Regions from separate parts of the Homo sapiens genome. Here region 1 is linked to region 2. The links come from fine-mapping of genetic effects on gene expression. Tissue or cell type: sigmoid colon. Region 2 holds a variant in brackets; the other region holds the start of a gene. All regions are shown on one strand. Distances are from middle to middle.

Region 1 (5,189 bases), 190 kb after region 2:
AGGGCCCCACAGGAATAGTGGGAAATGCCCTACTAATATTAACACTAAAGTATTAGTATTAGTAGTTTCTAGAGGGTGGGGAGGAGTAGAGATATTTAACTTTTTCTTAAGTCTATCTACACTGTTTGACTGGACAAAACTAGCATGAATGACATGTCATTAAAAATAAAAAGAGCTTACTGCCACACGCTTAAGATGAATTTATACGATGCCTCAATAGGTAAACACAGACTAGACCAAATTACTTTCTAAACTGAGATCTACTGCTGGCACAGTAAAACAAAGCTCAGAGCCTCTTGCTTACTTCAGTTTCCATTTGAGCTTCTGCCCTTATTTACTTACAATACTCATTATAAACAGTGCAGCTCACCATAAAAGACAATAATACTTTCCTGGGAAACAGACTGTGTCAATTTTATTGTAACTTTTTAAATTTCACTCCTATATTTTTATGTAATCATCAGGTACTACTTAATCTTGCTAAACAGTAGTAACAGCCAGAGTGACCCAGTGGTAAGAGCATTAATCTTCACTGGTTTTACAAGTCAGAAAACCTGGGTTTGAAAGTGTGAGAAGCTGGGCAGACCAACCTGTGCGCTTCAGTTTTCTCTCCTATAAAAACTACTACTATTTGCTCTCTCCTTAAAGATGAATAACTAGTAAATTGTTCTTAAATGAATGAATGAAATGTGAAACTAAATCATGGAGTGTAATCTCCTCTATTCGATTTGTCCCTGGACAACCAAGAAGTTACCAAATTTTTTTGATCGAAATATTCCGTGCCCAAAATGTAACAGAAATAAAAACCACACCCAACTCCTAAAATTAAGTTACTTTTAAAGTTATTAGATAACAACAGGGCTTTAGAACATCAGCAGGATGTTCTGCTTTAAAATTGATTTGGCATCCAGGAGACTAAGCCGAGTCGCCACAACAGACTGGCTTGGTAATTTAATTAGAGTCTTCTGGAGGGACACATTATATCATCATCCCCCGACAGTGTTCTCTTTAGGGACCTGATTTTCTCTCTAGTCCTCTCATTCCTTTCCCCTTCCTCACCTCCTCTCATCCCTTTTGTTTGCCCTTTTTTTCTTTTTTTGCTCTTAAAACAGCTCTCCCTCCGTTCGTCTTGTCACTTCCATGCATTTTTAACTCTAACTAGAAATGGGTCACCCCAGGTTTGCTCCCCAAGCCCCAGGGCCCCTCAGGACGAGTGAAAAAGGCCCTGCGGTCCTCCCTGCCTGGGGGAATTCCTCCTCCGATCACAGCTCCGGTGGGCTCCGCAGATGGGAAAGGGTTTCCAGCGCGCGCCTAGCGGCCACAAATCACTTCCCGGGGCCGCCCCGCCAGGCCTCAAACCTCCCAGAGCCGTCGGTCGGCTTTTACTTTAACGAGGATTCAGATGGGTCACACCCTGTCCTCCAAATGCGGGCCTGCTCCCCGGACCCCGCCCAGGGGGCTCGCCCCAGTGCCGAGGCTCCTGGGCAACCCTAGCACTCTGCGAGTCGGGGAAGTGACCCCAAAGTTGCTTCTGAGTGGAGACTTCCGCACGCAGAGGCGTCCCCGCAGCTGCCAGGCTTTTCAGGGGCAGCATCCCCCGCCCGTCAGGAGCCTGTCCTCGGGGCCACCACGCGCCCCGCGCCTCAGCCCCGCAGGGGCCGCACCGGGGCCTCAGTCTGCAAGCAGCCGGGGACAGCGGGCTTCCTCCCCTGCCCGGAGCGGCCGAGCGTCTCGGCCAACCTCCCCCGCGGAGAGCACAGCGCCCCCGCGCAGTCCCCGAACTTCTTCCCGCGTCGGCTCGGGCTCTCGGGTGGGGACGCGGGGACCCCTCGCTCACCGATATCCCCATCGTCGTCGTCCTCCTCCTCCTCCATTTGTAGCAAAACATTCCTGCTCATCTTTTTCATGTCTCCCTCAGAAGGCGGCTCCGAACTTGGCGCGAAGTTGGGGGCTCCCGGGTTCCAGAACGGCGCGGCTCTCCCAGGGGCCGGATCGGGGACCGCGGGGCGTGTGTCGCTTGGGCTCAGGGGCCGCTGAGCCCAGCCAGCGCCGGGGAAAGCCGAGCCGAGGCACCCACCGACCGGAGCCCAGAGCCGGAGGACGCCTCTCGCCTGCCGAGCGGAGCCCGGAGACTGAGCATGCCCAGTGCGGCCGCCGCGGCTCGCTGCGGAATGATTGAACTTCCCCGGTTTTACGAGGCGCGCAGAAGGAAGTCGGCAGGCGAGACTGCAGAGGGAGTAGTGCGATCCTGCGCGCGGGGGAACTAGCTGGAGGGCAAGGCGGGAACACGTGAGTGCGGGAGTGGACTGGGTTCCCTGAGCATTGATCCCAAACAGGGCAGCTTTTCGTTCCAAGGTCGTCTGTGGACACACACTGTGGCTTGCTTTGTTTTAACGTCTGATACTGGAGAGGAGGGAAATGCTGCTGCAGCACAACTGCAGAACCCTGGAAGGCGAACTCGTTTGAATGGCTTTTAAAGGCGACGTGGAGCTAATAATGGGGGGATCTTAAATTACTCTAGCTCCGAAGTGGGAAAGTGGAATCTGTACGGGTAGGTTAAGATTACGGTGGAGTCGGGGTGGGAGGAGAGGCAAAACTCAGAGAATAAGCAAAAGAAGAAGGGGCGGGACGGACGGGAGTGGGGGTGGAGAGAATTTTCTAAATAAACGTGTGCACAAAGGCAGGAGGATTTCCGCATACATTGAGGTCGCGGAGAGTGGAGAAGCGCCCCCTACTCCGCCCGCGCGAGCACACAGGGAGTGGTCGGAAGATAATCGCTGAAGCGTCCAGCCTATTTGTACAATTGAAACTAGTCCTCTGTGTCAAAGAGGGAGAAGAAGCCGAAGACCACTAGAGTTAGATGTAAACTCTTCTAAAGCAATGTGGAAAGCTATAATAAGAGAAAAGAAAGTCGTGAAATAAAATTAAGGCAGAGAGTTTTTATTTTTATTTTTAATGCTTTCCTGGAAACCAAAGGGACCGATAGGACAAATACAAAGGGATTTAGTACTTTAAAGACCCTTGGAGTTGTTTGAACGGCAGGTTTTGGGGATCGCGTGTCTACAAAACTTTTTTCAAAAAAGCTGGTACATTCAGGTTGTTCAATTTTGACTTCTCAAAAGGGCTAGAAGGTATATTTGAAATCTTGGTTATATGTGTTATTGTCTACTCATTGAAATTGTTTATATTTTTTCCACTGAAGTGCTAGGGTTATCACAATAACACTAAATCTACTGTGCATGTTTTTTCTTCCACATACTTTTTTTAAGACGGTCTCGCTCTGTTGCCGAGGTGGGAGTTCAGTAACTAGAACTACAAGCGGAGCACACCACCATGTGGGGCTTATTCTTAAATTTTTTTGTAGAGATGGGTGTCTCACTATGTTGCCCAGGCTGGTTTCGAACTCCTGGCCTCCAGCAATCCTTGCACCTCAGTTTCCTAACATTTTTAATGTTCTCTCTGAAAGAAAGAAAACATTGGGACCAATCTTAAGTGGGAAAATAGACATGAATATATACATGAAAAGACATGATGAAATTACTTTTAAGAAAATACCTGGGAAACACTATACTTGCTTCTTGAGGTACTTTTTTTGAATAAACAGAATTGTTTTTAGTATAAAGAGACAACAATACAGTACTCTGAAGATAGGAGAAAAAAATGATGGGAGAAGAAAGATGAGAAGAGATTGTTTCCTTTCACTGAACACTCTCCCCTGAGCTTGTGAAACTCACTAAAAGTAGAAACTTCAAAAGTGTTTTGGTTACATGATCAATTTTTACAATTTTCTTTTAACAAATTTTTGTGTAGTACTTTTTATGTGCTAGGAAAAGTTTTACATGTTTTATAAGCATCCAGTCATTCAACCCTCATAACAACCCTAGAAAGTGTTATCATTTTTCTTCAGGTGTGAGGCAACTTGAGCAACTTGTCCAAAATCACACAGGGAATAAATAGTGGAGCCAGGATTGAAACCTCAACAGCTTGTTTCAGAATCAGTGCTCATAGCCTCTTCATAAACCACCTCCAGAGACATGTCCCAATCCATTTTTTTTTCAGATCACTTTTTCCCCCACCAATTCAAAATTCAAAGTCTCATCAACTCCCTGCCATAGTTCTTTAACCAAATGTTCTCTCTTTTTTTTTTTAAGACAGAGTCGCGCTCTGTCACCCAGGCTGTAGTGCAGTGGCTAGATCTCGGCTCACTGCAAGCTCCACCTCCCAGGGTCACGCCATTCTCCTGCCTCAGCCTCCGGAGTAGCTGGGACTACAGGCGCCCACCACCACGCCCAGCTAATTTTTTGTATTTTTAGTAGGGACGGGGTTTCACCGTGTTAGCCAGGATGGTCTAGATCTCCCGACCTCGTGATCCGCCCGCCTCTGCCTCCCAAAGTGCTGGGATTACAGGCGTGAGCCACCGCGCCCGGCCTTGTTCTCATTTTTATGGACTAAGACTTCGGTCAAAGTTACTTTGTAGTTAAAAAATTATCGAAGTTGACTTTGCAACAAGTTTTAATTAGTCATTTAGAATTCTTCACAGATTTTTAAGAGTTTACATTTTTCTTCTTTGATAAATGTTGCAGCGAAACATTGTTGGCCTTATATGTAAAGGTAACTGTTGCTAGAAGGGAACTCTATTATTAGTAAATTCCATTCTTTCCTCTAATCCATTTTATTTCCTACCACTTCTCTTCTGCATTTTTTTTCAGTTGAGCAATCAATATATGCCTCAGAAATAGGATAATAGGCCTATGTAAGAACCACACATTTAACCCTGAAGAATTATCATCCATACAATAATAATTTGTGAAATAAAATATTAATATACAGCCAGGTTATTTGTATTTGCAAAGCTTTTTCAAGTCAGGGATCGCAGAACAATTATTTTCTCATTCATTCATCTGATTAAATACAACTTTTGGCCACCAGGATATTCTTTCTCTGCCCATCCTGTAAAAGTTGTTGCTTTTCTAGCTTCAGGTCTTGGGTCTCTTTTCTTCTCATCTTTCCCTATAGAACTCATTCAGTCCTATAACTTTACTATCTAATCCAGGCAGGGTCAGCTTGATGGGCATTCAAACAGTGTATTCACACAGAGCCCTACACTCTTATGGGCCTAACACTTGGGATTTAAATGTTCTGTGGTTAATGCCCATCAATGATAGACTAGATAAAGAAAATGTGGTACA
Region 2 (5,189 bases):
GGCCAAGTGTAAATATGGCCTATATTACGTAGACTCTTGGCTCAGTTATCCAGGCCACCTGGATCAGTGGTTCCCACTTCAGCACATACAAGCATGACATGGAATGCTTGTGAGTAGTGCAGCTTCCTGTGCTCCCAACTAAAAGGTCTGAGATAAGCTCCAGAATCTGCAGTTTTGCAGTCATTCCGGGGGGGGGGGGGGGGGTGACTCAGGTAGCACCAAGGACCACACATGTCCATCACCCTTCATGACACCGAACTCTAAGGTCACTGGGTGTGGTTTCTATTTGTTTATACTTTGCTTTGCCTCCCAAACTTCTAGCCTCCGCCTCTTGCTGAATCCTTTCCATGCCCTCAGAGAAGCAGGTCTTTTTCTGTCTGGGCTCTAAATCACATCAAAGCTCAGATTCAGGATGAAACTTCTGTCCTGGCAACTACTTGTGTCAGCTGGCGCTTCCGTCTCATATCAGGTCATCTTAGAAGTCTTTCTTACTAGCTTTCATTTCTGAGTTACAGATGCTGAGCCTCTTGTTTGGTTTTCCTGAGTTGAACCACTCATGTTTGGGTTTTCTATTGGTCTGTGTTTCTAGTGCAGGGAGCTCAATCTTGACTTCACATGAGAATCACCCACAGAACTTTTAGAAAAATATACACACCAGATACGTTTTCCCTGGCCAAGGCTAGAAGCAGGGGTTACAAAATAATTTCCATAGGAATTTACCATGTGTATTGTCATAGCCACATCATAAGTTATGCTTTACTAGGTCCTTATTTTGTACAAAACATGGTGAGAAGCACTTTACATCTCACTTCCTCTTCAACTCCATTATCACATTTAATCCACATAATGGAGATGATCATCATTTCTGTTTAGGACGTTCTACAGTATTCCCACTTGCTAATTTTGAAATACAAGCATCCTTCACTATCTGAATCTATTTTATGTGTCAGTTTACTGTTTCTGAACCTAGAGAGTAAGTGTGGATAGTGAGGGACACCTATATTTAGGACTCTGATTGCCTATAGCTCATCTTCTCTCCAAATCCTATCCTGAGAAGGGACATTTTCTCCTAAAACAGTTCTTTTTTCTTATTATATAAATAAGTATACTTATTTATATAAGAAGAGGCGTTTATGTTACAATATACATGTATAAATGTATATAAAGGAAAATTATAGCTATCTACTAAATACCAAACAATTGATACTACAGACATTTTGGATCCTTAATTCTATTATCTCTGACATTTTGTTATAAAAATTTCTCCAGAGTGAGTTAACACAGGAATTATACTAGCCTTTTATTAAGAACAGAATAAAATCCCCAGGAATACCTTAAATATCAAAACACTAAGGTGGAGCTGGGAAGGCCAAAGGGCTCTGAGCTTGCTCTCCGGGTCTCACTGACAACTCTGTAATTTACTGATGTGATGTATCTGAAGCATACAAGGCACTTATTCATTCACTCAGCTGCTTCATACTGAGTCCCTGTCATATGCCAGGTACTGGGGAGGCCCCAAAAGGAACCTGGATCCCTGAGCCAGATATGCTCCTTTCCTTGTTGCAAGAATCCTAGTCAAGGGGTATGGGCCCAAAGGCGGGAGAGGAAGGAAGGAAGAGGAGGGTACATGTGTGGTGAAACATTTCTCCATGTTTCTCTTGACACACTTACACGATGTGAAAACAACTGCTGACTTATAAGGCTTTTCTCTATCTATTTTTGGGGGGTGGGTATAGTTTTGGATAGAAAGGATAACTGATATATCTTTTTTTTTTCTTCGAGATGGAGTTTCGCTCTTGTTGCCTAGGCTGGAGTGCAATGGTGCGATCTCGGCTCACTGCAACCTCCGCCTCCAGGTTCAAGCAATTCTCCTGCCTCAGCCTCCTGAGTAGCTGGGATTACAGGCATGCACCAAATGTCTGGCTAATTTTGTATTTTCAGTAGAGATGGGGTTTCTCCATGTTGGTCAGGCTGGTCTCGAACTCCCGACCTCAGGTGATCTGACCACCTTGGCCTCCCAAAGTGCTGGGATTACCAGTGTGAACCACAGCACCTGGCTGATATATCTTTGATAAATTAGGACTTTGTATAAAAAAGTTAAGAAAACTGGCACCTACACAAAGAGAAGCAGCACCAGTCACTCTCTAATTTGGCTAACACTCAGCATTCTCAGTTTTCAAACAAGAAAACATAGGGGGAGAAATTTGAAGGCAAAGTTCATATCACTGTAATTTTCAACAATGAGCTTACTTGAAGTGAAAGTATAAACCACGGATAGTATAATTCATCCTTTAAAATATTTCATGTGAACAAATTTCATTTCATATGAATTTCTCAATTCCAGTTTAGGAAATAGCTGCTAAAAACCAATGTTACCGAAACATAGTGTTAAATAATTAACCTACTTTTTTCAGAAAACCCTTTTTAATCTCAGAATGGATTAAGACTTTCCTCAATTTTATATATTTGTTTTCATCTAGAAACACAGTACTATTTATGCATGACCTACTTTTACTTATCTGGAAAAATCTGAATATGAGCTCAATGAAAGTGAGGGTTGTTTTCTCCGGAGTAGGATAAAAAAAAAAAAAGAATTTCACAGCTAAAGCCAGAATCCCTTTCTGGGTGGGGGAAGAGGAAGGAGAGAGATCTTTGTTTAGAGAAAGACCCTGACAGTTTCCATTGAAGATGGAGAATAAGACCTGTTAAAGAAATCTGGAAGGAGGCACTGAAACCC[G/A]GAGTGAGTTAACTGCTCAATAAAGAGAATGAACAGAAACTTGGTGACTGGGGAGAAAAAAGCCAGGAGTAGGAGAAGAAAGGAGAGAGAAGTTGTATGTGATGGAGGCAAGAGGGCAACATGGCAGGAGGCGAGAGCCTGTAAAGAAGGGTGATAAATTTTAAAAAATTCCCAGCTATATAGTGGGATAAAAGACTTTTTATAAAGGTAGAGGTTTTTTATTTCTAAACAAGGGAAGAGGTGGTGGGGGAGATGAGAGGAGGAGGACAGGGGGAAGAAGACAGAAGGCGGGAGAGGTGACTACAGAAGATAGTCACAAACACGAAACTTTGCTGGCTTTAAGATGGAGAAGAGGTTACAAGGCAGGGAGCATAGATGGTGGCCTCCAGAAGCTAGGAAAGGCAAAGAGATTCACCCCAGAGCCCTTGGAAATGAACACAGCCCCACTAACACCTTGATTTTAGTCCAGTGAGACTTCTGACCCCCGGGACCATAAAATATTACATGTTATTTTTATCCCATTAATCTTGGGGTAATTTGTTATAGCAGCAATAGAAAACCCAAACAAAAAGCTCCCTGAAATTTGCAGAAATTGCAGATGGTGTTGGACTTTACACTTTGATAGTGGAGGGGGCCTAAGTGAAAATTGTAAAGGGCAATGAAATCTTAGTTAACATTTGAAGTACAACTATTCTGTTGTTCTCATTTTTTAGGAAAACAACAGTAAGTCAAAGCCTTTGTGATTATTATTTTAGACAATTATTTCTTAAAACATTATATATCCTAGTGCCTTAGGATCATGAAAGAACCTCTATTCTTAAAAGTTTGTACTCATGGGATCCTGGATTTGAATCCTACAGTAGTCTCTTAATGCTAATGTGAAACTGGGTAAATCATTTAACCTCTTTAAACCACAGATCTTCATTAGTAAAAAGGAGATAAAAATAAGGATAGTTTGGTAGATTAAATGATGTATATATATATATAGCACTTAATATAGTGACTGGAATTCATACTGACTTTTAAATGCATAATATATAGGAAAGAGAGGAGAAGGATATGAGGATATAAGAAATTGTGGAAATACACAGTTCACAGCTCTAACCAGTGCTGTCGCTCAAAGGGTTGTGATTAGTCAGTCACCAACAATAGCCCAGTAGGTATAAACTCTAGCAGATGGGGATTTACATTAAATATAATGAAGGTTTTAAAATACAATTATTAGATCCTGGATACATTTGCATTGTTGGTTGGACTATGTTGTCTGGAGACCTTTAATGACAACAGATTCTGATCCATTTAGAGGTGGACATGCAGCTATGTGGCTATGTGGCTATGTAGGCAAATGATTTGTGTGGATGGGCTGTTCTATCCCTTGTCCTTTTACCCATGGCTATACAATTTAACACTCACGGCAATAATACTTCTTGTATGTTATTCCAGATTGCTTTTCCTCCCATGATTATTGTCAGCTGAGTTGTCAGTTCAAGAAGACAGCCACCTGGGTCACACTAGAAGGTTAAAAAGAAAATACCATTTAAATATTCAATGGATCTAACTTGAAATATAGGCATTCTATTTTTCTGACATTTGTTCTGTTTAGGCTAAAAAATAAATCTAAGGAATTTACAATAAAAAACTATTCATTTGGGCAACTGAGAGAAAACTCAGCTTAAACTGGCAAGATAATACAATTATATATTCATACCTCTTCATTTCTGTATTTTCCCAACCAATAAACTGGGTCTCCTGGATAGCCTACAAATTTGCCCTTAAAGAATGCTATGTAGAAGCATGAAGAGTAGTAGTTGACAAACTGGAATAAGAACATCTTCATGGTGAGGCTGTTCTCATAATCAGTCTGGGTCCTTGGGAGTTCTGTAGTTAAAAGAAAGAGAAATAAGATTTTAAAATTGTGAACAGCTTTGAGACTCTAATAAAAAATACTGATACATGAGTTAACACGTTAAACACGTTAAAAAAATACAATTCACACTGTTTCCATTTAAGCTGTTTTGAATTCCTTAATATAGCCACTGTGTTAATTCCAAGTTTGCACATTGTTATGAGTTCTCCCTCACAGTAGGAATACAATAGCCCACATGTTCCCCCCTGCCCCACAAAAAAATCAACTGTTCCTTAAAATTTACAAGTCCAGTGTTATCAAATAAGAACTGCCATGGGTATAATTGACAGAAAATTATTTTTGAACTGCCTGCTAAATGATATTCTCTTGTTTTCCTGAATTGCGATAAGGTAGGTCTATTGAAGAAAACAAGCAAACCAAGGTACAACTTGCTAGAGGCATTTGGGAAAAACAAAATAGGTCATCCTCCTAGTGTGGAGTTTGCATCAGTTTGATCATTTTAGATGATCACCGAGCAGGCCATTCAGGGAACGACTCAGACGTATGCAGTGTGGGAAGCACTTAACTTGGCCACTAAACAGCTGC

The links. PIP is the estimated chance that this variant, and not a neighbour inherited with it, causes the effect.
Region 1: it holds the start of ANO6, and the variant in region 2 is fine-mapped to the expression of ANO6 in sigmoid colon (GTEx, PIP 0.92).

The regions. Positions count from the first base shown.
Region 1 is chr12:45,213,040-45,218,228 of GRCh38, reverse strand. It overlaps ANO6 (anoctamin 6), which reads right to left and starts at 2,134. Exons shown (of 20, transcript NM_001025356.3): 1 at 1,838-2,134. The coding sequence starts at 1,907. It also overlaps the pseudogene PLEKHA8P1. RefSeq lists enhancers at 1,129-1,258, 2,269-2,368 and a silencer at 1,499-1,808.
Region 2 is chr12:45,402,498-45,407,686 of GRCh38, reverse strand. It overlaps ANO6 (anoctamin 6), which reads right to left. Exons shown (of 20, transcript NM_001025356.3): 14 at 4,446-4,615; 15 at 4,151-4,248. All of the region lies in intron 5 of LOC105369743 (a long non-coding RNA gene), which reads left to right. Among named protein-coding and RNA genes, the nearest start is that of ANO6, 190 kb to the right of the region's middle. The variant G/A (reference allele first, on the strand shown) is at 2,738.